Homo sapiens: one gene and its partners. The protein of the gene in region 4 purifies or fractionates together with the protein of the main gene of each other region. This does not show direct contact. Each region holds a gene or a part of one and is shown on either strand. Other genes may lie near its edges. The genes, in order: GART, USP24, STAT5B, KDM6B, AKAP8, SLFN11 and KDM7A.

Region 1 (4,305 bases), on a different chromosome or scaffold from region 4:
GAATTGCTTGAACCCAGGAGGCAGAGGTTGCAGTGAGCGGAGATCACACCACTACTAGCTTGGCAACAGAGTGAGACTCCGTCTCAAAAAATAAAAGAAGACCTGTCTGATAGGGAAGGTTCTTTTAAGTGAGAGAAAGATCTTTAATTTTTATGTATTTATTTATTTGGAGACAGGGTCTCTGTTGCTGGGTTTGGAGCAGTGGTGCGATCACACCTCACTGCAGCCTCAAACTCCCAAATTCAAGTGATCCTCCCACCTCAGCTGGTGTGTGCCGCCACACTTGGCTATTATTATTTATTTATTTATTTATTTATGTAGAGGCGAGGTCTTGCTCTGTTGCCCAGGCTGGTCTCGAACTCATGGACTCAAGCAGTCCTTGCCTCAGCCTCCCAAAGTGCTGGAATTATAAGCATGAGCCACCGCACCTAGCCAAGTTAAAAAAAAAAAAAAAGAAACTTGTGGAAATCGTAAATCACTTCACGGTGTGAAATACTGTTGCTATTTGAAATCATATGTCAAATATGCTCTCTTCTAGGGTTTCCTGAGGCTCAAGCTCTAGGACTGGAGGTGTTCCATGCAGGCACTGCCCTCAAAAATGGCAAAGTAGTAACTCATGGGGGTAGAGTTCTTGCAGTCACAGCCATCCGGGAAAATCTCATATCAGCCCTTGAGGAAGCCAAGAAAGGACTAGCTGCTATAAAGTTTGAGGGAGCAATTTATAGGAAAGACGTCGGCTTTCGTGCCATAGCTTTCCTCCAGCAGCCCAGGTAAAACTCTAAGCAAGTTAGCTGTAGTGCCATTTCAGAAACTGGCCTAAATGGCTATGTAGAACATTTCATTAACCCTATAAGTCATTCAGTATTCTTTTCTCTCTGTGGGAGTGATACAGTCTTGGTTTGTATTTTGTTTGAATCAAAACTGGTTATAGCAATACTCAAATGGAAAAAACTTCATGATAGCGTAAGTTTGGAAAGTTTAGCAAAATCACAGTGGTACTGATTTTTATTTGTTTTCTATTTTTTTTATTTTATATTTTTAATTTTTTTAACAGGGTCTTCCTCTCTCGCCCAAGTTCTCATGCCTCAGCCTCCCAAATAGCTGGGACTACAGGCACAGGCCACCACACCTGGCTAATTTTTTTGTATTTTTTGTGGAGATGGGGTTTCACCATGTTGCCAAGGCCAGTCTGAAATCCTGGGCTCAAGTGATCCTCCTGCTTTGGCCTCCCAAAATGCTGGGATTATAGGCATGAGCCGCTGCACTTGGCCTGATACTGATTTTTATTCCTTGCGTTATCACATAGTGTTGTATTTGAAACATAGTTCATGGTTTTATCAAAGAACTGAAGATGAGAATACTGGTCATCTAACTTTGTAATTTGATTTGATTATACTGTAAAGTTTGACAGTCTCATTTTATCACTGCGTTTGTATCTATTACTAAAATGTATTTTTTGACCTCTTACTGATTCATTGTTGGTATGTACAAACTGTTGACTTGTAAAATCAATAAAGTCTTAGTTGGAAATGTGGGTGTTTTGATTTCTTTTTTTTTTTTTTTTTTTTTTTGAGACAGAATTTTGCTCTTGTCGCCCAGGCTGGAGTGCAGTGGCATGATCTCGCCTCACTGCAACCTCCACCTCCCGGGTTCAAGTGATTCCCCTTCCTCAGCCTCCTGAGTAGCTGGGATTACAGGTGCCTGCCACCGTGCCCAGCTAATTTTTGTGTTTTTGGTAGACATGGGGTTTCACCATGTTGGCCGGGCTGGTCTCGAACTCCTGACCTCAGGTGATCTGCCTGCCTCAGCCTCACCAAGTACTGGGATTACAGGCGTGAGCCACCGTGCCCGGCCTGATTTCTTAAAAATATATCACATTTGCTATTGTTCGTGAAGTTCATTTACGGATAATGAATAAATTTTAAGACAAAATTTTTTTACCAACGTAATTCAAGCTATACTGTTACCAAGAGGCAGGTTTTTTTAAAGTTTAAACACAGATTTTCCAAGAATCAAGAACATCAAAATACCAGGCTAAAAATTTATTTTTCATTTAAAAATGACTAGATTCCATTGAAATGACCTATTTCAAGGGACTGCAATCTCAATTCTAGTCTGAATTATTTAAGTTATAAAGATGAAAAAATGGAAATGCCACAGTGTTAGTTGCTACTGGAGAAAAGGTTTTTTAACATCAGTCTTTGTTTTCTATCTGAGAGTGACCCAGAGCTGCTGGCTTTATTTGAGTTAACTGCCAATGCACTCAACTGTATTCTGGCAGCTTTTTTGTTTTTTGTTTTTGTATGCTTTTTTTAAAGACACTTCTATAAAAACACATATTTCTTCATGTATCACTGCATCCCAGCAGGCCAGAGTTCTCATTTTTGCAAGTCAAGACTACAAAATCTGCAGTGTCATTCAAAAATTTGATCTCTAAATGTACTGCTCCGACTTGTGGGTCCTATACAGAAGGAAATGATGCACTGAGTATCTTTACCTGGTTTTGCTTTTGTCATAGTGTTTACTGTCCTCAGCTATTAGGAAACAGATACAGTTATATATTACTGAAATTAAGAACTCAGTTTAATTATTTAGGGATACTTGTGTACGGTTTTTACAAATCTAATTTTCACTTTTTTGACTTGATTAGGCATTCCTCTCTTGTTCATACCAAAATTGAACTGAGAAAAGTTGCAGCAAAATGTCAGTATATCTACTTTTAAACAGATGGTTGCCAGGGTCTGGGGTAGTGGGGAATGGGGAGTTATTTAACTGGGACAGACGTTCAGTTTTACAAGATAAAGGATTATGGAGATGGATGATGGTGCCGGGTGCACAGCATTATAATTGTATTCAATACTATTGAACTGTTCACTTAAAAATGGTTAAGATGCTGAATTTTATGTTGTGTATATTCTACCTTAATAAAAAATCATTTAAAAGAATCAGTATATTTAGCAGCCTGTGAGAAGTACTTGTAGAAGAAATAGGTGATTGAGTTAGAATAGCGGTTCTCAGGGATGATGTAATCAAGTCAACTGGGGAGATGGTTCAAACTCATTTCAATTCCCAGAGCCTGCCCTAGACCAGTTAAATCAGAATCTGTATAGATGTGGCCCAGGCACTGACTTTAAAAAAATTTAAGCACTTTAGGGTATGTGAAAATCACTTGGGATATCTTCTGCTTTAAATAATATTTTAAGATTAAAATAATTTTCCCTGACGTTTAGGTGATGACTTGTTTTTAATTCTTTAGGAGTTTGACTTACAAGGAATCTGGAGTAGATATCGCAGCTGGAAATATGCTGGTCAAGAAAATTCAGCCTTTAGCAAAAGCCACTTCCAGATCAGGTCAGTGATCCTATACTTTGCTAATTCATTAACTTTGATATACATTGTGAATGGATTTGGGTTTTATATTTAACAGGAATATTTTCCAAAGCAATGCTTGGTTACTGTAAGTTTTGCCCTGCTTAAGCCAAACCCAGTCTTCTGCTTTCTTTTCTTTAATATTAAAGTATTTCTCATCTGTCATGTTAAACTCAAAAGGATATGTATGCTCCTTTACTTTTTTTTTTTTTTTTTTTGAGACAAGAGTCTTGCCCAGGCTGGAGTGCAATGGCACCATCTCGGCTCACTGCAACCTCTGCATCCTGATTTCAAGCGATTCTCCTGCCTCAGTCTCCCAAGTAATTGGGATTATAGGCACCCACCATCATGCCTGGCTAATTTTTGTATTTTTGTAGAGACATGATTTCACCATGTTGGCCAAGCTGGTCTTGAACTCCTGACCTCAGGCAATCTGCCCACCTCAGCCTCCCAAAGTGCTGGGATTATAGGCATGAGCCACCATGTCTGGCTGGTCCTTTAGTATTTAATTACTTCCTTTTTTTTTTTTTTTTTTTTTGAGACAAAGTCTGGCTCTGTCGCCCAGGCTGGAGTGCAGTGGTGCCATTTCGGCTAGCTGCAAGCTCTGCCTCCTGCATTCACGCCATTCTCCTGCCTCAGCCTCCCGAGTAGCTGGGACTACAGGTGCCCGCCACCACGCCCAGCTAATTTTTTTGTATTTTTAGTAGAGACGGGGTTTCACTGTGTTAACCAGGATGGTCTCGATCTCCTGACCTTGTGATCCACCCGCCTCGGCCTCCCAAAGTGCTGGGATTACAGGGGTGAGCCACCACGCCCAGCCTTAATTACTTTCTTAATCAATTCTTTGAGCACATGGTGCAATCTCTCATACTCAGGAAGGGCATCTCTTGTTTCAGCCATTCTTATGAACAAGTGGTATGTATATACATGTTTAAC
Region 2 (3,954 bases), on a different chromosome or scaffold from region 4:
AAGACAATTTTTCTCCTTCCAATGTAGCCCAGGGAAGCCAAAAGATTGGACACCCTTGGCTTAGATGGTGGAGTCAAGGGAACTAAAGATATGACCCCAGTGTGCCAATGCCAAAGGTGAGAAGAGAAAGCAAAGAAAGCAGGCCTTTAAAGAGGTAGAGGAATCCTCAAAGGTGGAAAGAAACAGGGATAGGATGCTGCCCAAGAGGCAGGGACAAAGAATCGGAGCCAAAGACTGCGGTAAAAATGTGGGAAGGTGATGTCCACGATGTTCGAACGAGTCCGTGGCCGAAGGAAGTAAGAGTCTGGGTTTCTGGAGGTTTTCATACAGAGAACTGGGATTTAGATTTCGGGCTGGAAAAATATATTTTGGACTCTCAGGGGCTTTCAGGGTAAGAGTTCGGTAGAGTTCAGTCAGCTTGGCGGAGACAGGTAGTCAGTTAATGTTGGAAGGAAAATTCGGACAGCTGGGAATTAATTTCAACGGGTTTAGGGTGATTTCGGCAAGGGCTGGCGGGGCTAGGGTCGAGTGTGAATTTCGTCTTGGGTGGTCCACGCGTCTGGTTTGGGCAGGAATTTCTGTGGGCAGCGAGGCGTATTCAGGCAGCGTTGCGGGTGAATCTGCGTGGGATGAGGGTGGATTTCCTTCAGGACTGCGGTGCATTTCAGGCCGGGGTGGAGGTGCCTCACAGCCGCGGCGCAGGGAATTCCCTCTAGGATGGGGGAGCGGGTCGGGCGGCGCCGGCCAGGGAGGGGAAGTCCAACGGGGGTTCGGAGAGGCTCGGGGGACTCGGACGGAGAGAAGCCGGGTCGCGGCTGCGGAGGCTCGGCCGGCCAAGGGATTTCCGCGACGTTCAGCGCTGCGAGCTGCGCGGCGCTGCGGCCCCTCCCGTCCCGGGGGAACCTGTTGCCGGCGAAACAGGCGGGCGGTGGCGACGATGGAGAAGCCTTCCTCGCCTCTGCCTGGCTGCACGGCAGCCCTTTCACCTTAGGCACGCTCCGCGGCGCGGCCCCTCCCTCCGCTCCTTCGTTTAAAACAAACAGAATACGCCGCCGCCAACCCTAGCCTGCCAACGGCGAGCACGGTCGCCTCCCGTGCCGCTTCCGGGAGCCGAGGCGCGGCCCCGCCGCCCGGGGAGGAGGAGGCGGAGGGGGAGGAGGCCAACATGGCGGCGCGCAGGGCTGGGCCGGGCCGCAGCCGCGCCTGAGCGCCTCACCGCACTAGCTCGGCTCGCAGGACCCAAGCCCGCACCCAGCCTGGCCCGGCTGCTGCGGAGCACCCGGGGCAGGAACGCAGGGGCCAACCTGGGCGCGGAGGCGGCGCGGAGGGTGCGCCGCGCGGCCCGCCAGGCCCGGGACCCGTAGCTTCGCCGTGCGCTGGCCGGGGCGGCCAGGAGGCCCAAGCCATGGAATCGGAGGAGGAGCAGCACATGACCACGCTGCTGTGCATGGGCTTCTCAGACCCCGCCACCATCCGCAAGGCCCTGCGCCTGGCCAAGAACGACATTAACGAGGCCGTGGCACTGCTCACCAACGAGCGGCCGGGCCTCGACTACGGCGGCTACGAGCCCATGGACAGCGGCGGTGGCCCCAGCCCCGGGCCCGGCGGGGGCCCGCGGGGCGACGGCGGAGGTGACGGCGGCGGCGGCGGCCCCTCCCGCGGCGGGAGCACCGGAGGCGGGGGCGGCTTCGACCCCCCGCCCGCCTACCACGAGGTGGTGGACGCGGAGGTGAGGAGGGGCAACCCCAGACCTCTGTGGGAAGCCACTGGGCTGGAGTTCCTGGGAGGGGACACACCCCGCTGGGCTTGGTGTGGGGAGAGAGGGCATTCGACTGGGGCTTTAGTGGGGGCGGGGCGGAGAGAGAGAGAGAAGCCCCAGGCTCCAGTTGGGAACCGAAGTCACTTGATTGGGGGTAAGTGGGGAGAGGGACCCATAGGAGAGGCGTGTGAAAGGGAATTAGGGATGCGCAGCGGAGCTGTGGGTTGGGGTGAGGAGGGGTCCCTTAGGCTTCCGGCTATGCACGCCGACGATGGGGAGGAGGCTCCAGGGCTATCATCCGAGATGGGAGGACAGACACTTGAGCATATAGTGGGAAGGATGCGTGCAGTAGGGGGTCGGAAATGGGGTACTAGTGCACTAGGCTAGGTCGGAGATTTTGTGGCACGAGGTTTCAGTGAAGGATTGGCGGAGGCACCAGGCTCAGAGTCAGAAAAAGCGGTGTGGGCCGGCCAGAGTAGTGGTCTTTGACAGGATCACAGGAAAACTGTTGGGGTTAGGAGTGAGGTTGGGGTTTTAGCCAAGGGTCGGAAAGGGGGGGCATTGAGTAGGATTTAAAATGAAGAGGGAAGGGGCCGCGGCCAGGAATGAGGACTTGAATAAAATCAGGTATGAGAGCAGTGGGGATTGCACTGAGAGGGCAGAGGTGGGAGGCCTGGGCAGGGGTGGGAGCTGAGGAGGGTCTAGGCAGGGATGGGGACTGGAATTGGAAGATAGAGCTGGCACCAGGTCTGGGTAAAGAGGGAGTACTGGTCATCGATAAGGTCAGAAATGAGAGAAAATTAGACCGGGGAAAGAGATGGTAGTCATACTGAGGGTGCTATGCAGAGGGGCGCGGAACAGGGTGGGAGCGCAGTGGGGGTGGAGGAGGAGTCTTGAGGCTAATGGCTTTGATCAGAGACCTCAAGTCTAGGTGGAGAAGACTATGCCTGTTTAGTTTGGGGTGTGAGCAAGGAACGTGGGGGAAGAAAACGGACTCTTCTATAATAAAGAAAAAAGATCGACCAGAAGCAGCAGTGCTTTTGAATAATTACTTTGCAGAAACATAGTAGCTCATGGCAGGAATTTTGGTCAGATTCGTTGGGTAGTTCATTTCAGGGGCCAGTAGAGCAGCTTGGCCTGACCACAGAAAAGCACAGATCTCAAATTATTGGGATTGCGTTATTAGGTAGAGATACGAATTTGGTTCGTTCTTAATGAAGAATTAAGCTTAGTGAAGCTAAGCCTTTTGAAACACTTTTTCCTGAGCAGTGTTATATCCTTTTAATTGTATGCTTTTGCAACAGTTCCTCGGGCTGAAGTAGCTTGAACAAGAAGGTGGCACTTAAAAAGAACAGGTTTCTGCACAAGATTTCTTTGGCTTCCACACTTAGACACAGTTGCTAGATTGCCCTCTGTAACCCACTAACTTAGCTGTATCGTTGACTAGTATATGGAAATAAAGATTGTTACTATTCCTAGTTTGGGAATTTTTTTAAATTCCCATATAATTGAGTAACCATACTTAAGTCATTTTAAGAAATCAGCTTCTCATTGGCAGTTCCTATCACTCCTCCCTCGTTCCTTCTAGTTTTTGACCCAGTTTTGAAATCAAGAAGAAAGCCGTTGCTTTTTCAGAAGGTGTTTGTATAACTCTGCAAAGCTCAGTGTATCCTCATTATGTGAGAAATGTGATTCTTTTTTTCTTTTGTCATACCTTTTAATTTCCTGTGATTGGAAAATCAATTTAAATTACAATGCTTGGTGCATTCATGTTAACATTAGCGCTAACCTTAGCTTACTGCCAGTACATGTAAGTACAAAGAATTGGGAGTGGCTTCTTACGTGAATGGCAGGCTAAGGAGTTTGGTTTGCGGTAAATTAAAATCCATAAAATCTCCATCTTTTCGAAGCAGTGCATCAAGTCCTCATTTCTCCTAGACCTGTGGATTTGGCCTGGGGGAGGGAAGCTGCACCGTTTACTTTTAAGAGTTCAAGAGGAGCTGGTGACTGAGGCTGCTTTACCCACGAAGCGTATTGGCAGAGGTTGGCAGGCTGAGACTTTCCTGACACACAGGAGCCTTTTGGAAACATTTAACGCAGAATGTGCCTCTGTGGTTTAATAATCTTAATGCATGCCACCTATGGAACTTCTTGGTCATCCTTGGTGTACACAGTGGGAAACTGAGGCTCTTGAT
Region 3 (4,305 bases), about 34 Mb from region 4:
AAGCTTTTTAGAGCATTAGTCATGATTTCTGAGACAGATTTAAGAATTTTACTTATTTGGGCTAATTTATTATTATTATTTCTTGAGACAGAGCCTCGCTCTGTCACCCAGGCTGGAATGCAGTGGCGCGATCTTGGCTCACTGCAACCTCCGTCTCCTGGGTTCAAGAGATTCTCCTGCCCAGCCTCCGGAGTAGCTAGGACTACAGGCATGTGCCACCATGCCCAGCTAATTTTTGTATTTTTAGTAGAGACGGGGTTTTGACATGTTGGCCAGGCTGGTCTCGAACTCCTGACCTCAGGTGATCCTCCTGCCTTGGCCTTCCGAAGTGCTGGGATTACAGGCATAAGCCACCATGCCCAGCCTATTTGGGCGAATTTTTAAGGCAACTGAACTATTGTATGTCTAGAGCTCTGCAAAGGCCATTAGAAAATAGTCTCAGATTTTTTTTTTTTTTTCATTTATGATGCTTACTTTCTCTCAGCACTTTTCCTTGGGAGTGGATTGTGAAGTTAAGTCTTGGAAACAGAATTCACAACCCTAAAGCGTAGTGCTTTAACTTTGGGAGATCAAGTCACAGACAAGAAGAACTTCAATTCCCTGTGCAGAGTATAAACTTGTTCAAATAAACAGAGGATGTTAGCTTCCAGGATTGTCAACTGTCACCTTTGACCAGGGTTGAATTTTCTTTGAATGTTGACAGAAGTTACAATGTCAGTGGAAAAAGCTTAATGTGAGGTATCTATAACTCAGAATTTCCTTATGTTTGTGTCAGTGAGATCCTACAATTAAAGCTGCTTCTTTTTTTCTATGTCTGATGAGTTTTAAAAGCCTTCACTGGGGTTTTCCAGCCTTTAGGTGAGAGTAAGTTAAAAAGTTTGTGAGAAACTATTTTTTGTTGTCTAAAATTCAGAGCCTAGGTCGGGCCCAGTGGCTCACGCCTGTAATCCTAACAATTTGGGAGGCCGAGGCAAGCGGATCACGTGAGGTCAGGAGTTGGAGACCAGCCTGGCCAACATGGTGAAACCCTGTCTCTACTAAAAATACAAAAATTAGCCAGGTGTGGTGGTGCACGCCTGTAATCCCAGCTACTCAGGAGGCTGAGGCAGAAGAATCACTTGAACCCAGGAGGCAGAGGTTACAGTGAGCCGAGATCGCACTACTGTGCTCCAGCCTGGGAGACGGAGCGAGACTCCATCTCAAAAAAATAAATAAATTAAATAAATTCAGAGCCTATAGCTGGTGGCAAGTCACTGTTTTTGAAGGAGTGGGATTTTAAAAAATCTAACCTGGGCTAAATGTTAAGTTACATTCATACATGTCATTGTAGCCTATATAAAAAGAAACTTGAACACTTGATCTCTTAAAGTACTAAAAATTGGAATTCATCAGCTTTGTAATATAGCATTCATTCTACAGTATATTTAAATAGGTAAAATGTTCTGTTAGAAATAATGCTAATTCTGTTTTTTTGTTTAATGTTTCTAAAAATCTTTTGGTCATCTTTTAGGTTTAGGAAAAGTAGCAAATTAGAGATCTACAGAAATCTACAGCTCTTTAAAAATGAAACAGTTCACCCTGTGAATTTGTTTGCAGGATTGGTGATCTGTTTCTGATGCCAGGAAGGTGGGACTCCTATCTCATTTCTGATAGAAAGTGAGGGAAAGCTATGTATAGTGAGAACTGGATACTAGATTCTTATTCCGAAGGCATGGAAGGTTTAATATGTAAGGATACAATGTAAATAGTCCCTCTTTTTGTATTTTTCTTTGGTTATTGTTACGTAACTATAGTCGTTTGTCACTTAATGATACATGGTGACAAAGTTCTAAGAAATGCATTAGGCGATTTTGTCATTGTGGTACCATCATAGAGGGTACTTACACAAACGTAGATGGTGAGCCCTACTGCACACCTAGGCTGTATGATAAAGCCTATTGCTCCTAGACTACAAACCTGTGGAACATGTATACTGTATTGAGTACTGTAGACAATTGTAACACAAGGGTAAGTATTTGTGTATCTAAACATATCTAAATATAGAAAAGTTACAGTAAAAACATGGCATAAAGGATAAAAAATGGTACATCTATATAGGGTACTTAACAGGAATGGAGCTTGCAGGACTGGAAGTTGCTCTGGGCAACTCAGTGGGTGAATGGTGAGTGAATGTGAAGGCCTAGGACATTACTGTACATTACTGTAGATTTTAAAAATACTGTCTGGTTAGGCTACATTAAATGTATTTTGAAAATTGTTTCTTTCTTCAATAATAACCTTAGCCTACTGTAATACTTTTACTTTGTAAACTTTTTACTTTTTTTTTTTTTTTTTGAGATGGAGTCTTGCTCTTGTGGCCCAGGCTGGAGTGCAGTGGCGTGATCTCGGATCACTGCAACCTCTACCTCCCGGTTCAAGCAATTCTCCTTCCTCAGCCTCCCGAATAGCTGGGATTACAGGCGTGTGCCACCACGCCTGGCTAATTTTTGTATTTTTAGTAGAGACGGGGTTTCACCATGTTGGCCAGGCTGGTCTCAAACTTCTGACCTCAGGTGATCCACCCACTTTGACCTCCCAAAGTGCTCGGATTATAGGTGTGAGCCGCCGTGCCCGGCCAACTGTTTACTTTTTTACACTTTTAAACTCTTTTGTAGTAACACTTAGCTTAACACATAAACATGTACAGCTGTGCAACAATATTTTCTTTATGTTTTTATTCTTTTACTTTTTCTCTTTTTAAATAATTTTTAATTTTTCAAAACTTTAAAAACTTTTTAATTTTTCAAAACTTTAAAAACTTTTTCTTAAAAGTGAAGGCATAAACACACACATTAGTCTAGGCCTACACAGGGTCAGGGTCATCAGTATCACTGTCTTGCACCTCCACATCTTGTTCCACTGAAAGGTCTTCAGGGGCAGTAACACATATGGAGCTGTCATCTCTTGTGATAACAATGCCTCCTGAAGGACCTGCCTGAGGCTGTTTTACAGTTAACTTTTTTTTTTAAGTAGAAGGAGTACACTCTAAAATAACGATAAAAAGTATGGTAAATACATAAACCAGTAACATAGGCATTTATTATCATTATCAAGTATGTACTGCACGCAATTGTATGTGCTAGACTTTCACATGACTGGCAGTGCAGTGGGTTTGTTTACACCAGCATTGCCACAAACATGTGAGTCATGCATTGCATTACAACATTATGATGGCTACAGCGTCACTAGAGGATAGGAATTTTTCAGCTACGTTTTATTATCTTATGGGACCACAGTGATATATGTGGTCTGTCATTGACTGAAACGTCATTATGTGGTGCCTGACTACATATATGGAAACTCTGAGTGTAGTCATGTTTTACAAATGAGTTTATCTTGCAGTGAGTTTAAATATCAAGTAAAAATACTAATTTCATTGTAATGTATGAAGAGATTGGCCTTTCTCCTCATGTTGAAGGTATCAAAACAAAATAGAAAATATTTGGCTTCCTGAGTGGCATGGCTACAATTCACATGCTGAGTTGGTGATGAGGCAAGATCCCTTGACTTTGCAATACCAGAAAAATGCACATAGTTAAAAAAAAATAGAGACAGGGGTCTTGCTATGTCTCCAGGTGATCCCTCCCACCTCCACCTCCACACCTCCCACCTCAACCTTCCACAGTATTGGGATTACAGGAATGAGTCACTGCACCGGGCCAAAAAGCATATAATTTTAAGGGAATGATTTTTTTTTTTTTTTTTTTATTTTTTGAGACAGTGTCTTGCTCTGTTGCCCAGGATGAGTGAAGTGTGCCAGGAGTGGGTCCTTAAGTAAGAAAACGTATTACTTTAGACACACATTTAAAATTTTGTCCAAAAATGTGATATTCTCAAAATTTATGGTTTTGAATTTTATTTATTATTTTAATTTATTATTATTATTTTTTAAAGAGTGGGGTCTCACTATGTTGCCCGGGCTGGTCTCAAAGTCCTGAGCTCAAGTGATCCTCCCACCTCAGCCTCCAGAGTAGATGGGACTGCAGGTGTGAGCCCCTGAGCCTGGCTAGTTTTGAATTTTTATTACCCAAATGTGAAGAGGTCTAGTTTGCACAGAACTTAACATTACATTCCAGTTTTATTGGTAAATTTGAACAGGATATAAGTGGCTTTAATAACTAATAAAAGAAGATACATCTTATAGATACACATATGTCTTTTTATATGTATACATAAATATTTAAAACTTCTTTATGCCAAAAAATGCCAGAAACCAAAGCTAAGTGACAAAATAAGAAAAATATTTCTAATATATATGACAAAGCA
Region 4 (4,080 bases):
GTCTCTGCAGGTGAGATGAGAACGTGGCCAGAGGCAGGTCCTGGGACGGGGCTGCGGTGGGAGGGCTCTCGAAAGGTCTCTGACCCAGGCCTGCCTACCCTCTGGCTGAACAGGAGGAGAAGGAGAGTGAGGATGAGGAGTCAGAGGAGCCAGACAGCACCACTGGAACCCCTCCTAGGTACTGTGCAGGTGTGCCCCTTCTGTTCCTGCTTCCTTCCCCTCCCTCTGCTCTCCACCAACCTGTGCTCTTCGCCCCAGCAGCAGCGCACCAGACCCGAAGAACCATCACATCATCAAGTTTGGCACCAACATCGACTTGTCTGATGCTAAGCGGTCAGTGGGGCTGAGGCCAGGGAAGTTGGGGCAGGAGTGCTGCTAGGACCTCGTGGCGGGGGCGGGGTGTAGCCTCTCGTCGCACTTCCGCACCGCAGGTGGAAGCCCCAGCTGCAGGAGCTGCTGAAGCTGCCCGCCTTCATGCGGGTAACATCCACGGGCAACATGCTGAGCCACGTGGGCCACACCATCCTGGGCATGAACACGGTGCAGCTGTACATGAAGGTGCCCGGCAGCCGAACGCCAGGTGCGCTCCACGCCTGTGCGCGCTGATGCTGGAAGCGCGAGAGGAGGGGCTGGCGGCGGCGCTCAGCCGTCAGCCAATGAGGGCAGAGGGCGGGGCTATCGGGGATCGCAGTTCCGACCTGGCCAGCCATGCCGTTCTCTGTCGACCCCTGCAGGCCACCAGGAGAATAACAACTTCTGCTCCGTCAACATCAACATTGGCCCAGGCGACTGCGAGTGGTTCGCGGTGCACGAGCACTACTGGGAGACCATCAGCGCTTTCTGTGATCGGTGCGTGCCGTCCTGCGCAAGTCAGACTGCCGCGTCCCCGCCCTCGGTCCCCAGTTCCCACCTGACCTGTGGCCACCCCGCAGGCACGGCGTGGACTACTTGACGGGTTCCTGGTGGCCAATCCTGGATGATCTCTATGCATCCAATATTCCTGTGTACCGCTTCGTGCAGCGACCCGGAGACCTCGTGTGGATTAATGCGGGGACTGTGCACTGGGTGCAGGCCACCGGCTGGTGCAACAACATTGCCTGGAACGTGGGGCCCCTCACCGGTGAGAGGGTGGGGCAGGTGTTGGCGTGGTGTGGCGCCTCAGCGGCAAGGGCCTGGGAGGCTGGGGCTTGGAGAGCCGCCAGCAGTGAGGGAAGGGGCTTGGGCCTAGGTGTCTGGGGGCTGTTTGAGAGTCCTGTTGTGATCGCCTTTGGCCCGCAGCCTATCAGTACCAGCTGGCCCTGGAACGATACGAGTGGAATGAGGTGAAGAACGTCAAATCCATCGTGCCCATGATTCACGTGTCATGGAACGTGGCTCGCACGGTCAAAATCAGCGACCCCGACTTGTTCAAGATGATCAAGTGAGGACCCTATTTGGGTGGGAGCCCACCTCCACTGACTGGTCCCTTTTCTTGTTCTTCCTGTCTGACTCCACCCCATTTTTACCTCTCTCCATCCTTGTCTGCCTGTGCCCCGAGTGTTACTGTGTTGGGGAGGCTAACTAGGTCCTTGCTGTCATGACCTTTTCTAGTGGTCCAAATAGACAAAAGCCACAGGAAACTTCGCCTATAACAGATGCCCAGGACAGAGGATGTGACCTAGACATGAAGCGGGGAGGCCCCTAGGGGAGGGCCCTGGGGCTGCCCACCCCTCTGCCCTTGCTCCAGCCCTGCCTCAGGCCTCCTCCTTGCCGGTGGTCTCAACACAACCCCACTGCTCCCCAGGTTCTGCCTGCTGCAGTCCATGAAGCACTGCCAGGTGCAACGCGAGAGCCTGGTGCGGGCAGGGAAGAAAATCGCTTACCAGGGCCGTGTCAAGGACGAGCCAGCCTACTACTGCAACGAGTGCGATGTGAGTGGGCCGGCTCTGCTGCTCTCCCTGAGTGTCCACAGTGGCCCTCCCTCCCCCTGACTGCACTGTCCTCCCTGCCCCAGGTGGAGGTGTTTAACATCCTGTTCGTGACAAGTGAGAATGGCAGCCGCAACACGTACCTGGTACACTGCGAGGGCTGTGCCCGGCGCCGCAGCGCAGGCCTGCAGGGCGTGGTGGTGCTGGAGCAGTACCGCACTGAGGAGCTGGCTCAGGCCTACGACGCCTTCACGCTGGTGAGGGCCCGGCGGGCGCGCGGGCAGCGGAGGAGGGCACTGGGGCAGGCTGCAGGGACGGGCTTCGGGAGCCCGGCCGCGCCTTTCCCTGAGCCCCCGCCGGCTTTCTCCCCCCAGGCCCCAGCCAGCACGTCGCGATGAGGCCGGACGCCCCGCCCGCCTGCCTGCCCGCGCAAGGCGCCGCGGGGCCACCAGCACATGCCTGGGCTGGACCTAGGTCCCGCCTGTGGCCGAGAAGGGGGTCGGGCCCAGCCCTTCCACCCCATTGGCAGCTCCCCTCACTTAATTTATTAAGAAAAACTTTTTTTTTTTTTTTAGCAAATATGAGGAAAAAAGGAAAAAAAATGGGAGACGGGGGAGGGGGCTGGCAGCCCCTCGCCCACCAGCGCCTCCCCTCACCGACTTTGGCCTTTTTAGCAACAGACACAAGGACCAGGCTCCGGCGGCGGCGGGGGTCACATACGGGTTCCCTCACCCTGCCAGCCGCCCGCCCGCCCGGCGCAGATGCACGCGGCTCGTGTATGTACATAGACGTTACGGCAGCCGAGGTTTTTAATGAGATTCTTTCTATGGGCTTTACCCCTCCCCCGGAACCTCCTTTTTTACTTCCAATGCTAGCTGTGACCCCTGTACATGTCTCTTTATTCACTTGGTTATGATTTGTATTTTTTGTTCTTTTCTTGTTTTTTTGTTTTTAATTTATAACAGTCCCACTCACCTCTATTTATTCATTTTTGGGAAAACCCGACCTCCCACACCCCCAAGCCATCCTGCCCGCCCCTCCAGGGACCGCCCGTCGCCGGGCTCTCCCCGCGCCCCAGTGTGTGTCCGGGCCCGGCCCGACCGTCTCCACCCGTCCGCCCGCGGCTCCAGCCGGGTTCTCATGGTGCTCAAACCCGCTCCCCTCCCCTACGTCCTGCACTTTCTCGGACCAGTCCCCCCACTCCCGACCCGACCCCAGCCCCACCTGAGGGTGAGCAACTCCTGTACTGTAGGGGAAGAAGTGGGAACTGAAATGGTATTTTGTAAAAAAAATAAATAAAATAAAAAAATTAAAGGTTTTAAAGAAAGAACTATGAGGAAAAGGAACCCCGTCCTTCCCAGCCCCGGCCAACTTTAAAAAACACAGACCTTCACCCCCACCCCCTTTTCTTTTTAAGTGTGAAACAACCCAGGGCCAGGGCCTCACTGGGGCAGGGACACCCCGGGGTGAGTTTCTCTGGGGCTTTATTTTCGTTTTGTTGGTTGTTTTTTCTCCACGCTGGGGCTGCGGAGGGGTGGGGGGTTTACAGTCCCGCACCCTCGCACTGCACTGTCTCTCTGCCCCAGGGGCAGAGGGGTCTTCCCAACCCTACCCCTATTTTCGGTGATTTTTGTGTGAGAATATTAATATTAAAAATAAACGGAGAAAAAAAATCCTGTTTCGCTAACGGCTGGTGGTAGCAGGTTGAGTACCGGGAGGGCTGCAAGACCGTGATTGATGGGGAGGACTGCGCAGACCCTGGCGAGGGTGAGCCCCTCCCCGGAGGCGCCTGTGGAATGTCCAGGGCTCTGGTCCGCTCCTCGGGATGGGGGGTGCCTAATCCTAGAGCCGCATTCCAGGATAAGGGGGGTGGGGAGAGGCTGGGCCGGGGGAGGGGCAGGAAAGAGGGCTATAAGGGCAGCGGCCCAGGCGGGCGGGATCCAGGCGGGCCATGGCGGATGTCCCCGGGGCACAGCGAGCGGTTCCTGGTGACGGCCCAGAGCCCCGGGACCCCCTGGACTGTTGGGCCTGCGCTGTTCTTGTAACAGCCCAGAATCTGCTGGTGGCTGCCTTCAATCTTCTCCTGCTGGTGCTGGTGCTAGGGACCATCTTGCTACCCGCTGTCACCATGCTGGGCTTCGGCTTCCTCTGCCACTCTCAGGTGAGCGTGCGC
Region 5 (3,708 bases), on a different chromosome or scaffold from region 4:
GCTGGGATTACAGGTGTGAGCCATCACGCCCGGCCTCATGCCCTTTTTTAAAAAACATCAAGTTAAGGCTGGGCTTGTGAACTTTTCCTCGCTGGTACATGCTTGATTAAAAATTGCAGGCCAGGCACGGTGGCTCGTGCCTGTAATCCCAGCATTTTGGGAGGCCAAGGCAGGCGGATCACCTGAGGTCTGGAGTTCCAGACCAGTCTGCCCAACATGGTGAAACCCCGTCTCCACTAAAAATACAAAATTAGCCGGGCGTGGTGGCTCCTGCCTGTAATCCCAGCTACTCAGGAGGCTGAGGCAGGAGAATCACTTGAAACCAGGAGGCAGAGGTTGTGGTGAGCTGAGATCGCGCCATTGCACTCCATCCTGGGCAACAAAGCAAAACTCCGTCTCAAAAAAAAAAAAATTGCAGAATGGGCCGGGCATGGTGGTTCACACCTGTAATCGCAGCGCTTTGGGAGGCTGAGGTGGGTGGAAACCCCATCTCTACTAAAAACACAGGAGGCGGAGGTTGCAGTGAGCCGAGATCGCACCACTGCAGTCCAGCCTGGGCAACAGCGAGACTCCATCTCAAAAAAAAAAAAAATTGCAGAATATCTCCCCGAGGTGTTTTCTGAATCTGTAGGCTCTGAGAACATGTAGGATTCACTCCTGTGGCATAATTTACAGAAGTGTTTCCCTTGTGGACTGCTGGTTCTGAAAAGCTGACATCCCCGCAATCATGGGCCTCCTGAGCTCTGCTTACACCACGCTGACCGGTGTTTCCTCTTTGGCCAGGGTGAGGACCCTTTCACCAGTGAAACTGTTGATCCAGAAATGGAAGGAGATGACAATTTAGGAGGTGAGGATAAGAAAGAGACACCTGAGGAGGTGGCCGCGGACGTCTTAGCAGAGGTGATTACAGCAGCAGTGAGGGCCGTAGATGGGGAAGGAGCGCCCGCTCCAGAGAGCAGCGGGGAGCCGGCTGAGGACGAAGGCCCCACGGACACAGCGGAGGCCGGTAGTGATCCTCAAGCCGAACAGCTGCTGGAAGAGCAGGTGCCCTGTGGAACGGCACATGAGAAGGGCGTCCCCAAGGCCAGAAGTGAGGCTGCAGAGGCTGGAAATGGCGCCGAGACAATGGCAGCAGAGGCAGAAAGTGCCCAAACCAGAGTTGCTCCTGCCCCAGCTGCCGCGGATGCTGAAGTGGAACAAACTGATGCAGAGTCTAAAGACGCTGTTCCCACAGAATGATGCTCATTTCCCTGTTCCAGGGAAGGCGTTGGGATGATGGATGCGTTGGTCTTTCTCCCTTGGTTTGTAAGCAGTACAAGGGCGTGTGCTCCCAGAATATGCTGTAATCTAATTTTGGTGAAGAGACCCAGCGTTTCCTCCTGAGCAGTGCCTCTCACGGCTTGTCTCATGCAGTCGTGTGGCTTCTTGCCCAGGTTTCAAAGCTGAAGTACATTGTCCTTAGCGGCTGTAACATGTCTCTTGACAGTAGTGCACTTGGAATAATAAAGGTTGGGTGATTATATCTTGATGATACATTACTTGTTCAATACAGCCACTGATGGAATGCTTCCTTTTTTATTTTTTTCCTTAATTTTTTTTTTTATTTGGTTGGGAACAGCTGAATACTAGGAATATATCTTGCTCTATAGAGGATTTTTTTTTGTATGTTTCAAGCTTCAGCCTTTAACCTATACCTTTGTAGTGCACCATATGGTGTGTGACTTTCACAGGACTTCGCAGCACCTGGTTCACATGTGGCACTGACCGCGTCACATCCACGCACTCCCAAAGGCCAGAAGTATCTGACCGACCTACGCCACTGGAAACACACCCACCGCAACCTCAAGAACCAGACTGTGCAGAGGGCATTGCGTCCCAATCTTTAGTCCTTGCTGAATCAGTTCTCTAATATTTTACCTCATTTGTGTTCCACCTCTAGATTACTTCAGGTTTTTTTCCTTTAAAATTAGTTACTACCACTCAAATGTATTTACAAAGAGAATTTGGCCAGGCACGGTGATGCATACCTATAATCCCAGCACTTCGGGAGGCCGTGGTGAGAGGATAGCTTAAGCCCAGGAGTTCAAGACCAACCTGGACAACATAGCAAGACCCCATCTCTTAAAAAAAAAGGAAAGAAAACTTGATGTGATTGCCATAGGTGGAATAATCCAACATAAATTGCCATAGATAGAAGGTATCTGTAATATATATATATATATATAAAATGAAATATATGTTTCATTTTAGAGAAATAACTATTACTTTAGATCTTTCCAAATCTGAGAAAGGGAGGCTAGCATGTGTTCAAGGTTAGCACGCAACAGAATTTCCTAAAATCAGAAGAATTGGAAGATCCTCCCCTTTTGAAATGGCCCTGCTGTGTCAGTTTCCCTGTGGCCTTTTGAACTGTACATCTCACATGTTGGGAAACGCTGGCCACTGGGAAATCATTAGAAAGGAGGCTGTAGAATATTTGCCGAGCCTCTACTGTATACCAGGGGCTAACTCACCAAGCACATTCTAGGAATTGGGCCCTGCTCATGAGGAGCCTTAGTGGAGATTCCAGGTGAATATTTATGAAAAAGTCAACATTAGAACTGAAAATGGAAATAAACTGCTTGAAAAGACGATGGTGCCTCTGGGTCATTTCTGCTCAGCATCCGTTTGTGTTGTGTAGATGCGTCTTAATCGCAGGGTGAGCATGCCTTTTAAGCTTGTTCTCTTAAGGCAAAAATGTCGGTAGCATTAAACAGTAGTGCAGAAAAACATCACTAGTGGAACTGCTTTATTTCCTTAATTTTCTTTTTTTTTTCTTTTTTTTTTTTTTTTTGAGACAGTCTTACTCTGTTGCCCAGGCTGGAGTGCAGTGGCGTGATCTTGGCTTACTGCAACCTCTGCCTCCCAGGATTACAGGCATGAGCTACTGCACCTGGCTCTCCCCTACCCCACACCTTTTTTTTCTTCTTATAAAAATCCAAGACCCGGCCAGGCATGGTGGCTCACACCTGTATTCCTGGCACTTTAGGAGACCAACGCAGGTGGATCAGTAGAGGTCGGGAGTTCAAGACCAGCCTGGCCAACATGGCAAAACCCTGTCTATACCAAAAATACAAAAATTAGCTGGGTGTGGTGGCACACACCTGTAATCCCAGCTGCTGGGGAAGCTGAGGCAGAAGAATCGCTTGAACCAGGGAGGCAGAGGCTGCAGTGAGTCGAGGTTGCGCTACTGCACTCCAGCCTGGGCAACAGAGCAAGAATTTGTCTCAAAAAAATAAAATATCAGGCCAGGTGTGGTGGCTCATGCCTGTAATCCCAGGACTTTGGGAGGCCAAGGCGGGCAGATCACAAGGTCAGGAGATCGAGAGCATCTTGGCCAACGTGGTGAAACCCCATCTCTACTAAAAATACACAATTAGCCAGGCGTGGTGGCAGGTGCCTGTAGTCCCAGCTACTCTGGAGGCTGAGGCAGGAAAATCACTTGAACTCTGGAGGCAGAGGTTGCAGTGAGCTGATACTGCATCACTGCACTCCAGCCTGAGCGACGAGCAAAATTTCGTTTCAAAATATGTATATGTCAATCCAAGACCTGTCATTAAATTGGTCTGAATGTCAGTGAGGCTCTTCCACCTTCCACCTCTTGGTGAAACTACATAATTCTGTTGTTGTTGTTGTTGGTTTTACAGGCAGGATCTCACTGTTGCCCAG
Region 6 (4,305 bases), about 28 Mb from region 4:
AAATATAAATTTGATATGTAAATGAATGCAAGGACCTTGGATAAAGGAAAAAATGAAATTCTAATGGGGGCAGTCATTATCTATTAATTTAATGATCCTTGACAGATATTTACACATATATAGGACATTTATGTATCAATTATAGTGCCAGATAAGCCACTGACTTACTGCACAGATTTAAGCAAGTGGTTTTCCCTCTCTGGGATTCTACAAAGACAGCAATGGATTCCTAAGCAAAGCCTATCATGGGAACAAGGGATAAGAGTAGAGAAAAGGCGTTGACCTTGGTCCTGAATTATTGTGTTTGTGCTGCTACGTGATTGTCCTAAACCCAAAACATGGGAAGAAATGCATAATCCATCTCCATTTTAAATGTTTTGTTTTCCATCTTGACCTAGATTTATATTGTTTTCTCTTATTTACAACCACCACTCCCGTGGAAAATCTGGCAAGGGCAGGCAGTTTTTTGGCTGCTCTCTGGTGCAGCATATGACTAGTTTGACTAGATAAAAGGTTTCCAATCTAGATGAACATAAAATCATGAGGGTAGTTTGAGAAAAGTACATATTGCAAGCCACTCTCCCCACATATTCCAATTTGTTATGAGTGGAGTAGGGACTCAGATATGTGTCCTTTTAAAAATGACCAGAAACACTGATGATCAGCCAGATTTGGGAACTACAAGAACAAATAGTCTTTAAGGGAAATAATGTTCCTGGATTCTATGTGTGGTCCTGCCTTAGCCAGTGGGGTCAGTAAGGGTTCATTTCTAAACCACTTATCACCAATAGGATTGTAACATCATCACGTCTTACAAATGGGTTTGCAGAGCACTTTCAGGATTTTACAAAACAAATATTATAGTTTAATCTCCCTTTATCCTAATATAGAAACTGGCTGGTGTTGAGAAGACAAACCATAATTACCTGAAAATAAAAGTTGCTGGAGTTCCTTTTTATGTTCCAGGCCTTTCTTGGAGTACACTGGTCTGCTAAGGGGAGGCCCACTAGATAGACTCAGCTGACATTCAAAATCTTCAGACAACTGTAGAAGATCTTAAGAAAGAAAATTCATGTTATTCTGACGTGTTAATCTCTTCATACTGAAAGAGGCTCTATCAGTAGGTGGAATGTGTGACTTTCTAAATAGTTTGACTTGAGAGATAATATCAAAATAACTCTCCTCTCACTCACTTACTCTAGATAAGTGCCTTTATTGCATATCAAGGTTGCCAAAACCCACCCTGAAAAGCCATTATTTGGAAGTTTAACTGTATTTCTCCATTCAGTATAATTCTTCATTCTCTGTATCTGGTTAGCATTTTGTTTGCACACCTGTTACGTTACCTAGCTCATTCTTTTAGTACTGCTGTCTGTGCATGTATCTTGTTTTACATCCCCTCTCCAACTGCCACCACCTCTCCTGAACCCAACTCTCAACTCTGTTCAATATCATCTCATCACTGATTTGTAATTACCATTACTCACACTTAAAAAATAGCTTAGGGCTTGGGCACAGTAGCTTGTGCCTGTAGCCTCAGCTACTCAAGAGACTGAAGTGAGAGGATCACTTGAGCCCAGGAGTTCAAGGCTGTAGTGGACTATGATCACGCCACTGCACTCCAGCCTGGGTGACATTCTGACACCTATGCTTATTCCTGAAGTTAAAATGAGAAATTGTGTGAAATCAAAGGACATTATAGAGTGCATTAACTTTTTCATGTGCTTTGGAGATTGGAGTCAGCTTTATAATATCTCCTTTCCAAGTACACATCCACTTTACTCAGAAGATTGTGTCCCAATTTTTATGTTCTCTCTGTGTTTCTCCAGGCTTAGGGTGTTCTCAGTTGTTCTAGAGACACTGAGATAGCCCACTAGCCTGCCAAATTATAGCATGATGGGGTAAATATAGAAACATGTTTGGGAAGCAGTAGTGATGCAAGGCAAGAAATATTTCAAACTGTTAGGAGCAGAGGGGTAGAGCAGATTATACCTGCTGGCATAGAGCATAATGGGTACATGGTGATGAGTGGAAGAAAAGGCAAAATATCAACAGGATAAACAGAGACACAGGACAATATGAAACGGTACTGAGGACAAACCTTGAATACACCCCTACCCCCGTGACCCTCATCACCCTGAAATACTTTCTGTTCTTTTGTTTTTGAGACAGGGTCTCACTCTCACCCATGCTGGGGTGCATTGCTGTAATAATGGCTCACTGCAGCCTCAAACTCCAGGGCTCAAGTGATCCTCCCACCACAGCCTCCGAAAGTGCTGGAATTATAGGTGTCAGCCACCATGCTTGGCCCTGAGCTACTTTCAAATTTTCCTGAGCTACAAAATCAACAATGTCCTCAAGGATCAAGAGATAAACTACATCTTAATTTAGGCAGGGTACTATTATAAGGTGATAGCAAACTTCAATGCAAAGGGCTTTTTTTTTTGAGACAGAGTCTCGCTCTGTCACCCAGACTGGAGTGCAGTGGTGCAATCTCGGCTCACTGCAACCTCCTCCTCCCAGGTTCAAGCAATTCTTCTGCTTCAGCCTCCCAAGTAGCTGAGACCACAGGCACGCACCACCACGTCTGACTAATTTTTCTATTTTTAGTAGAGACGGGGTTTCACCATATTGGTCTTGAACTCCTGCTCAGGTGATCCACCCACCTCAGCCTCCCAAAATGCTGGGATTAGAGGCATGAGCCACCAAGCCCAGCCCAAGAAAGCAACCCCAGAAAGCAGTACTATCTATGCTGGTGATGGTTTAATAAACAGATCTAGTTGAGAAGAGATCCCTCGTTCATAGCCAACTGCCAGTTTCTGTTTTATAAATCTTCCTGCCATGGACAATTTCAAGCTCCTAATGGATTATCACTAAATACAGAGTTGGAAAGCCATGCACAGTAGCACTCCATTTTATAGTATTCCCACCACACAGATACAATAGATGTAAATAATCTCTCAAGCAAAGATAATAGTGAAATGTAGCAAATAATTAGGAAGTGGTGAGTTTGAATTTATTACATTTGTTTCTGATACGATTTATTTAGGTGCAAGTATATACAATCTAATTTTTAGTAATAACTATGTTTAACAACTAGCTCAAAAATTCCTGAAAATTTAATAATTGATTCTAAAGCCAGTAAGAGCCATTCCAGTACACCATTGCAAGGGTGGCCATTCTCAAATAATTTTCTGTTCAGTTACTAATGTAGAAAATTGGCCATTTATAGACATGTGAGTTAGGTTTCTAATCACCCAACAAAATTTTCTCATGTATGAAAAGTAGAATACTTGGGGATTCAAAATAAAGTGTTCAGTGGATGTAAGATGTTCAAAGTCATAGGCAGCAAAGGAAAATTTAATATGGGAGGTCCCAAGGATGTAGAAAGGACAGGGAGGGAGGAGCTTTCTCCCTCTTACCTGGATCTGTGTCTGTCATCATGCCTACCCATTTCTCGGTTGTCAGGCTGCAGACGTACTTGTCCTCCACTATCCATGAATTGGGAGCTTCTGAGAACACTGCACAGCAGAAGGGATTTACTCTGATCATGCAAGCATAGCCATAGAGCTCTCCCCTTTTTAACACATTCACAATTTTGAGTGTGAAGGTTATCGGGCGTTGGGGTTGGCAAAAATGAACACAAGGTAGTTTGTATATGGCTTGTTCTATTTTCCTTCTCAAAGAGTCAGGGTCAACATTTTCTTTTGCACATCCCAGGACTTCCCTACTCTTATCATCCACTCCAATAAAAAGATAGCCTCCTCCAGTGTTTGCAAATGCAGGGACGTATTCTGGAATTGTCCTTTTTACATATTCTTGGAAGTGTTTTGTAGAGAACTGTTTAAACTCTACTAACTGAGACTCAGGAAAAGGCAGGATTTCACCATATTCAAGATAGTCTTTTTGGAAAATTAGGTCAGCAGGATCCGAGTTTGGGTCAGCAGGATCCGAGTTAGGGAGCTCTTGGTATACACCCTTGTGAATTTTGTGAAAAGGTCCTTCTTCCAAGATTTTTGGCTTCCTTTTGGTCTTCAGGAAACAGAATGCCTCTCTTGAGTCCATGGAACGCACAGAGGTCTCAGATCTACGGTATAATGAAGAACTGAGGCTGCAAAGGCGGGGCTTGACAGAGCGATCTTCAGGGAAAGGGCCACTGCTCCAAGATTTAACAAAAATGTAAAAACACCTTCCTTGTTGCTTGGTCTCAAAGAAAGCCTGCAGATCTGAAGACTGAATAAGCTCTCTCAAAGACTGTTCTAAATCCAGTCCCATCTCCACGGGATGCTCAACCTTCTTGGCCAT
Region 7 (3,674 bases), on a different chromosome or scaffold from region 4:
ACAGAGAACTTATCATTAAGTTAAAACTGGCAATTAATGCACCTTTATATATATTTTTAAATGAAAACTAATACTATTCATGATGTTTATTTTATATCAAATATATGCCCAGGGCATGCTACTTTAAAAATCCGAGGAATCTCCAACAAGGTGCTGGATTAAAATCAGATTTCGTGCTTGAAGTGGAAGAAAAATGAAGTTGTTTATGGATAAGAGAGTGAGAATGTGTATCCTCAAGTACGTTAAGATGATTTAACTGAAAGATGGCTTTAGGTTTTTCTTGAAGAATTAGGAAAGTACCATCCCCACAGATTCAGCATACTCTTCAGGTACTAGATAAAGGTGAAGGAAGTCATGGAATTAAAATGACTTAGCAACTCCCCAGGGAACTTGTGGGGAGAATGAGGTGGTTAGAAAGGTGAGAATGCACAAAGACAGCTCTGGGTTGGGTACCAACAGTTTGCTTGGTAGAAAGAAACCAGTGTAGGAAAGGAGACGCCACCAGACATCTTCAACAGACAAGATTCTTTCTGCCTTTTTCAAAAGATGCTCTCTGCAGCAGTAAGACTATAGATAGAGTTGATTGGAATATCATGTGACCCAGTATGCTACTGCTAGGCATAATTATCAAAAATTCATTTTTCTCATTAAATATTGTTAATTGCTCGCCACATAAAGAGAAGCTAGAGCTCACCAGTCTTGGTGGTGTCCTAGACCTTCCTCTAAAGCAGTCTTGGGAAGCTGGATCATCAGATCTTTAGCCTAGACAGAGTGTCGCTGGTAAATAAAGGAGACACAGGTAACCCAGAGTGGACAGTGATTTGCGTGGGGAGACACAGTGGATCTGGGGCCTCTGATACTTTGCTTCCTAAAACAGCCCCCAGTTTTCGGCTTGCCCTATGAGATGATGTTCATGTGCTTCCTTGAAACCAGGTGGAAAGAAAGGGGAAGAATTAATTTTCTCATTCTGTTGCTGTTGAACGTAATGTAATCTTAATACTGTAGCCTTCCTAGAAGCCCTTCCCTCTTTTTCATGCTGTAAAGTCAAATATTTGATATCCTTAACATAAATTTTAAAAATTAAGGTCATTAGGAAGCAAATGTCTATTTCCAAAGCAATGAGCTTGTTGTGACTGTGATTTTATTCTTCTATAGTATTTTTTTCCTCATTTTAACTGAGAGGAGAAAATAATACTCTTTTGCAATATCCTTAGGTTCTCCCCTTCCCCCTGGTGCCCCTTCTAGTGTCTTAAGACTTTGTCTTAACAAGTATAACATTACATTTTGTTGTTAAAACCTTTCGAAACTGTATTCAGTGATTCTTCCAAGTTTATCTGCTCTGCACTATTTCACTAATAAACCCTGGCTACCACGTAGCCCTTGATCTCCAAGTAGTTTACCTATGCAAGACCTGTGACACTCTGAATTCACTTCTCTTTCTTTCAGAAAGTAGTCATAAATGGAGCTTAATTATAAAGGTAAAACTTGTCTCCAACCAGTTTCATTTTGGCCATTTCTTTTTCAAAATGTCAGCTGTTTTCCTCCAAGATTTTTCACCAAAACAATGATCATAAGTGCTGGAATATATAATACTTTGCAGGCATAAAATAACCCAGACATACTCTCATATTTCTTTGGTGTATTTTGGTTGGTAAAACTTACCAGCATTAAATGTAAAATATAATGAGGAGTTAATTCCTTACCTAGAACTATTTCTTCCTTTTAAGATTCATAAGTAACCTTTTATTTTTACAGAGCTACGTATAACTTCCACATTACAGTCAGGGACCTGAGGTGTAACTTACTAAGTGAACCCCAAGGTTATTTTATCTTGCAAAAGAAACCTAAACCAAACTAAGGGCCTTACAGTTTATGGTTAGACTGAATCAAAAGCTATAACCTCAATTTTTCCAAAAACAGCTTCTGACTGCAAAAGCAAGTCATACAGTTGTTAGGTATGAAATAGCACTGATCAGGAAATGCATCTTCGCAGATGGTATTTCCTTCAGAAAAGACTTTTCTACTTTTAATATAAATTAAGCCATAACAGTTTCATGCTGTGGAAAGAGGGTGAAAAGGTTCATTTTAAGAGATTATATAATATGAACTTTCACATTTACTGTGAAATGTCTAACTTTGCCAGTGCTTCAGCAAGTTTTTTTGGGGGGTGATGGGGAGGGGTAGTATTGGTTTTAGAGGTTTCAAATCTGTGAACTTTGGAGAGGGGACAGTTGTTGGCTCTGGTATTTACTAGTTTTGTAGTAACGTTTTGCTAGCCTGACTGACTTTTCTTACTGGTTTTTATGCCCACGGTCCGAGGGGACTGTTCTTCTTGTTGGGGGTGTCTGCGGAATAGCGTCTCGTCTTGTTTGTATAGGCAGTCAATGTGTGTGACATGTGTGTCCTTTCAGTCCGGAAGCCCACTGTGTGACAATGGCGTGGGGTGTGGCTGGGAGGTGGGGTGCTGAAGCTTGAAGAGCATTTCTTTGCTGATTCATAACAGTATTTCCCATCTTTTGCCTGCAGGCAGGGAAAGTGTACAGTATTTATTTTGTTTCTGTTTTACTTTAAATTTGTAAGTCTTTAAGTAGCTTACATTGATTATTATAGGGGAGGACAAGTGACTTGTTTAAAGTTGTATTTAGTATTCTTTCCAATTTCTGTATTTTAAAATATTGAAATTAAAATTGTATTACTTCTGTTTTGATTTTTTTAGCACTTAGTGTATTTTTTGCTCATTTTGTTTGAAAGTATAAATGTTGAAAATTGTATAAAATGCGTCCTTGAAAGAAAAAGAATCTGAATTCTATATCCAATTCTGACTTTGTTCCCTTTTTCTGCTGATTGAATCATGGGAAATTATTTAAAAGTATGAAAAACTGGGTTCAGCGTCTGCTCCTTACTACTTCTGAAGACTTCAATGTGAAAAGTAATTGTCTTATTTTATTAGCAGTATTGCTGGGGATGAGTGATTGCTCAAAGAGAGGGAAGAATACAAAAGTGTAATTGGCAACATGAGGCTGAAACGTAGAAACGGATGTGGGTACTTGGCTAATGAACATTTCAGCACACTCACAGCCCCTGCCCAGGCATCCCACAAATATTTCCTAACACCTGCAGTACAGTAGGCACTGTTTTAGCACTAGTGCTGCAGGAGTGAGCAAAACCAAGTCCCAGGCCTCAAGGAGCTTGTGTGAGACACAAAAGGCAAGTGAGAGCCAGGGGTGTGGTGGCCTGGCTGGCTGGTGAAGGTGAGAGTGTTAAGTGCACACTCCGTGAGGAAGATGAGCTCAGTTTTGGACTCAGGGTCTGAGAGACAGGGATGATACGGACCAGGAAAAAGATCTGTCCTTAGAGGAGATGAGAGAGGAACTCTGGACCAGGAAGGAAGGAGCCCTGCAGGCATCACTTCCAGGGCAGAAGAGAAGCCTAGGAAGGAGACAAGTGGGCAGGAAGTCTGTTCCCGAGGAGAAACTGAGCTCAGAGTCCCAGAAACCAAGTGACCAGAAGGACCAAAGACCATACCCTCCCTCCCCCTAATATCTGCAAAAGAACAGGGACGCCAAAGCATGCACACTTAAACACACCTTGAGAGCTGCTTCCGCCCCTAGAACGGAATCCACAAAAGCAGTTTGCATCTCCTGTGTCTGCTTTCATGAAATTGGTTGAAATCT

What was found.
Region 1: the proteins of KDM6B (region 4) and GART purify together in Homo sapiens (affinity purification with mass spectrometry, with the first as the bait; one large-scale study listed by BioGRID). This does not show direct contact.
Region 2: the proteins of KDM6B (region 4) and USP24 purify together in Homo sapiens (affinity purification with mass spectrometry, with the first as the bait; one large-scale study listed by BioGRID). This does not show direct contact.
Region 3: the proteins of KDM6B (region 4) and STAT5B purify together in Homo sapiens (affinity purification with mass spectrometry, with the first as the bait; one large-scale study listed by BioGRID). This does not show direct contact.
Region 5: the proteins of KDM6B (region 4) and AKAP8 purify together in Homo sapiens (affinity purification with mass spectrometry, with the first as the bait; 2 studies listed by BioGRID). This does not show direct contact.
Region 6: the proteins of KDM6B (region 4) and SLFN11 purify together in Homo sapiens (affinity purification with mass spectrometry, with the first as the bait; one large-scale study listed by BioGRID). This does not show direct contact.
Region 7: the proteins of KDM6B (region 4) and KDM7A purify together in Homo sapiens (affinity purification with mass spectrometry; 2 studies listed by BioGRID and IntAct, with this or other methods). This does not show direct contact.

Annotation. Positions count from the first base shown.
Region 1 is NC_000021.9:33,521,234-33,525,538, reverse strand, and holds part of GART (trifunctional purine biosynthetic protein adenosine-3), read left to right. Parts: intron 1-538; coding exon 539-770; coding exon of another isoform or gene 771-774; exon of another isoform or gene 775-1,530; intron 1,531-3,256; coding exon 3,257-3,351; intron 3,352-4,305. UniProt on the Homo sapiens protein: Trifunctional enzyme that catalyzes three distinct reactions as part of the 'de novo' inosine monophosphate biosynthetic pathway.
Region 2 is NC_000001.11:55,212,565-55,216,518, reverse strand, and holds the start of USP24 (ubiquitin carboxyl-terminal hydrolase 24), read left to right. Parts: upstream 1-1,154; 5' UTR 1,155-1,405; coding exon 1,406-1,729; intron 1,730-3,954. UniProt on the Homo sapiens protein: Ubiquitin-specific protease that regulates cell survival in various contexts through modulating the protein stability of some of its substrates including DDB2, MCL1 or TP53.
Region 3 is NC_000017.11:42,265,988-42,270,292, reverse strand, and holds part of STAT5B (signal transducer and activator of transcription 5B), read left to right. Parts: exon of another isoform or gene 1-2,007; intron 2,008-4,305. UniProt on the Homo sapiens protein: Carries out a dual function: signal transduction and activation of transcription. Mediates cellular responses to the cytokine KITLG/SCF and other growth factors. Binds to the GAS element and activates PRL-induced transcription.
Region 4 is NC_000017.11:7,851,217-7,855,296, forward strand, and holds the end of KDM6B (lysine-specific demethylase 6B), read left to right. Parts: coding exon 1-10; exon of another isoform or gene 11-105; intron 106-113; coding exon 114-178; intron 179-240; exon of another isoform or gene 241-261; coding exon 262-333; exon of another isoform or gene 334-431; coding exon 432-580; intron 581-734; coding exon 735-849; intron 850-932; coding exon 933-1,120; intron 1,121-1,278; coding exon 1,279-1,420; intron 1,421-1,783; coding exon 1,784-1,910; intron 1,911-1,993; coding exon 1,994-2,164; coding exon of another isoform or gene 2,165-2,281; coding exon 2,282-2,305; 3' UTR 2,306-3,580; downstream 3,581-4,080. Other genes in the region: TMEM88 (transmembrane protein 88), read left to right, coding at 3,859-4,068. UniProt on the Homo sapiens protein: Histone demethylase that specifically demethylates 'Lys-27' of histone H3, thereby playing a central role in histone code. Demethylates trimethylated and dimethylated H3 'Lys-27'.
Region 5 is NC_000019.10:15,352,446-15,356,153, reverse strand, and holds the end of AKAP8 (A-kinase anchor protein 8), read left to right. Parts: intron 1-783; coding exon 784-1,239; 3' UTR 1,240-2,769; downstream 2,770-3,708. UniProt on the Homo sapiens protein: Anchoring protein that mediates the subcellular compartmentation of cAMP-dependent protein kinase (PKA type II).
Region 6 is NC_000017.11:35,359,317-35,363,621, forward strand, and holds part of SLFN11 (schlafen family member 11), read right to left. Parts: coding exon 3,423-4,305; intron 1,056-3,422; coding exon 927-1,055; intron 1-926. UniProt on the Homo sapiens protein: Inhibitor of DNA replication that promotes cell death in response to DNA damage. Acts as a guardian of the genome by killing cells with defective replication.
Region 7 is NC_000007.14:140,083,888-140,087,561, reverse strand, and holds the end of KDM7A (lysine-specific demethylase 7A), read left to right. Parts: 3' UTR 1-2,816; downstream 2,817-3,674. UniProt on the Homo sapiens protein: Histone demethylase required for brain development.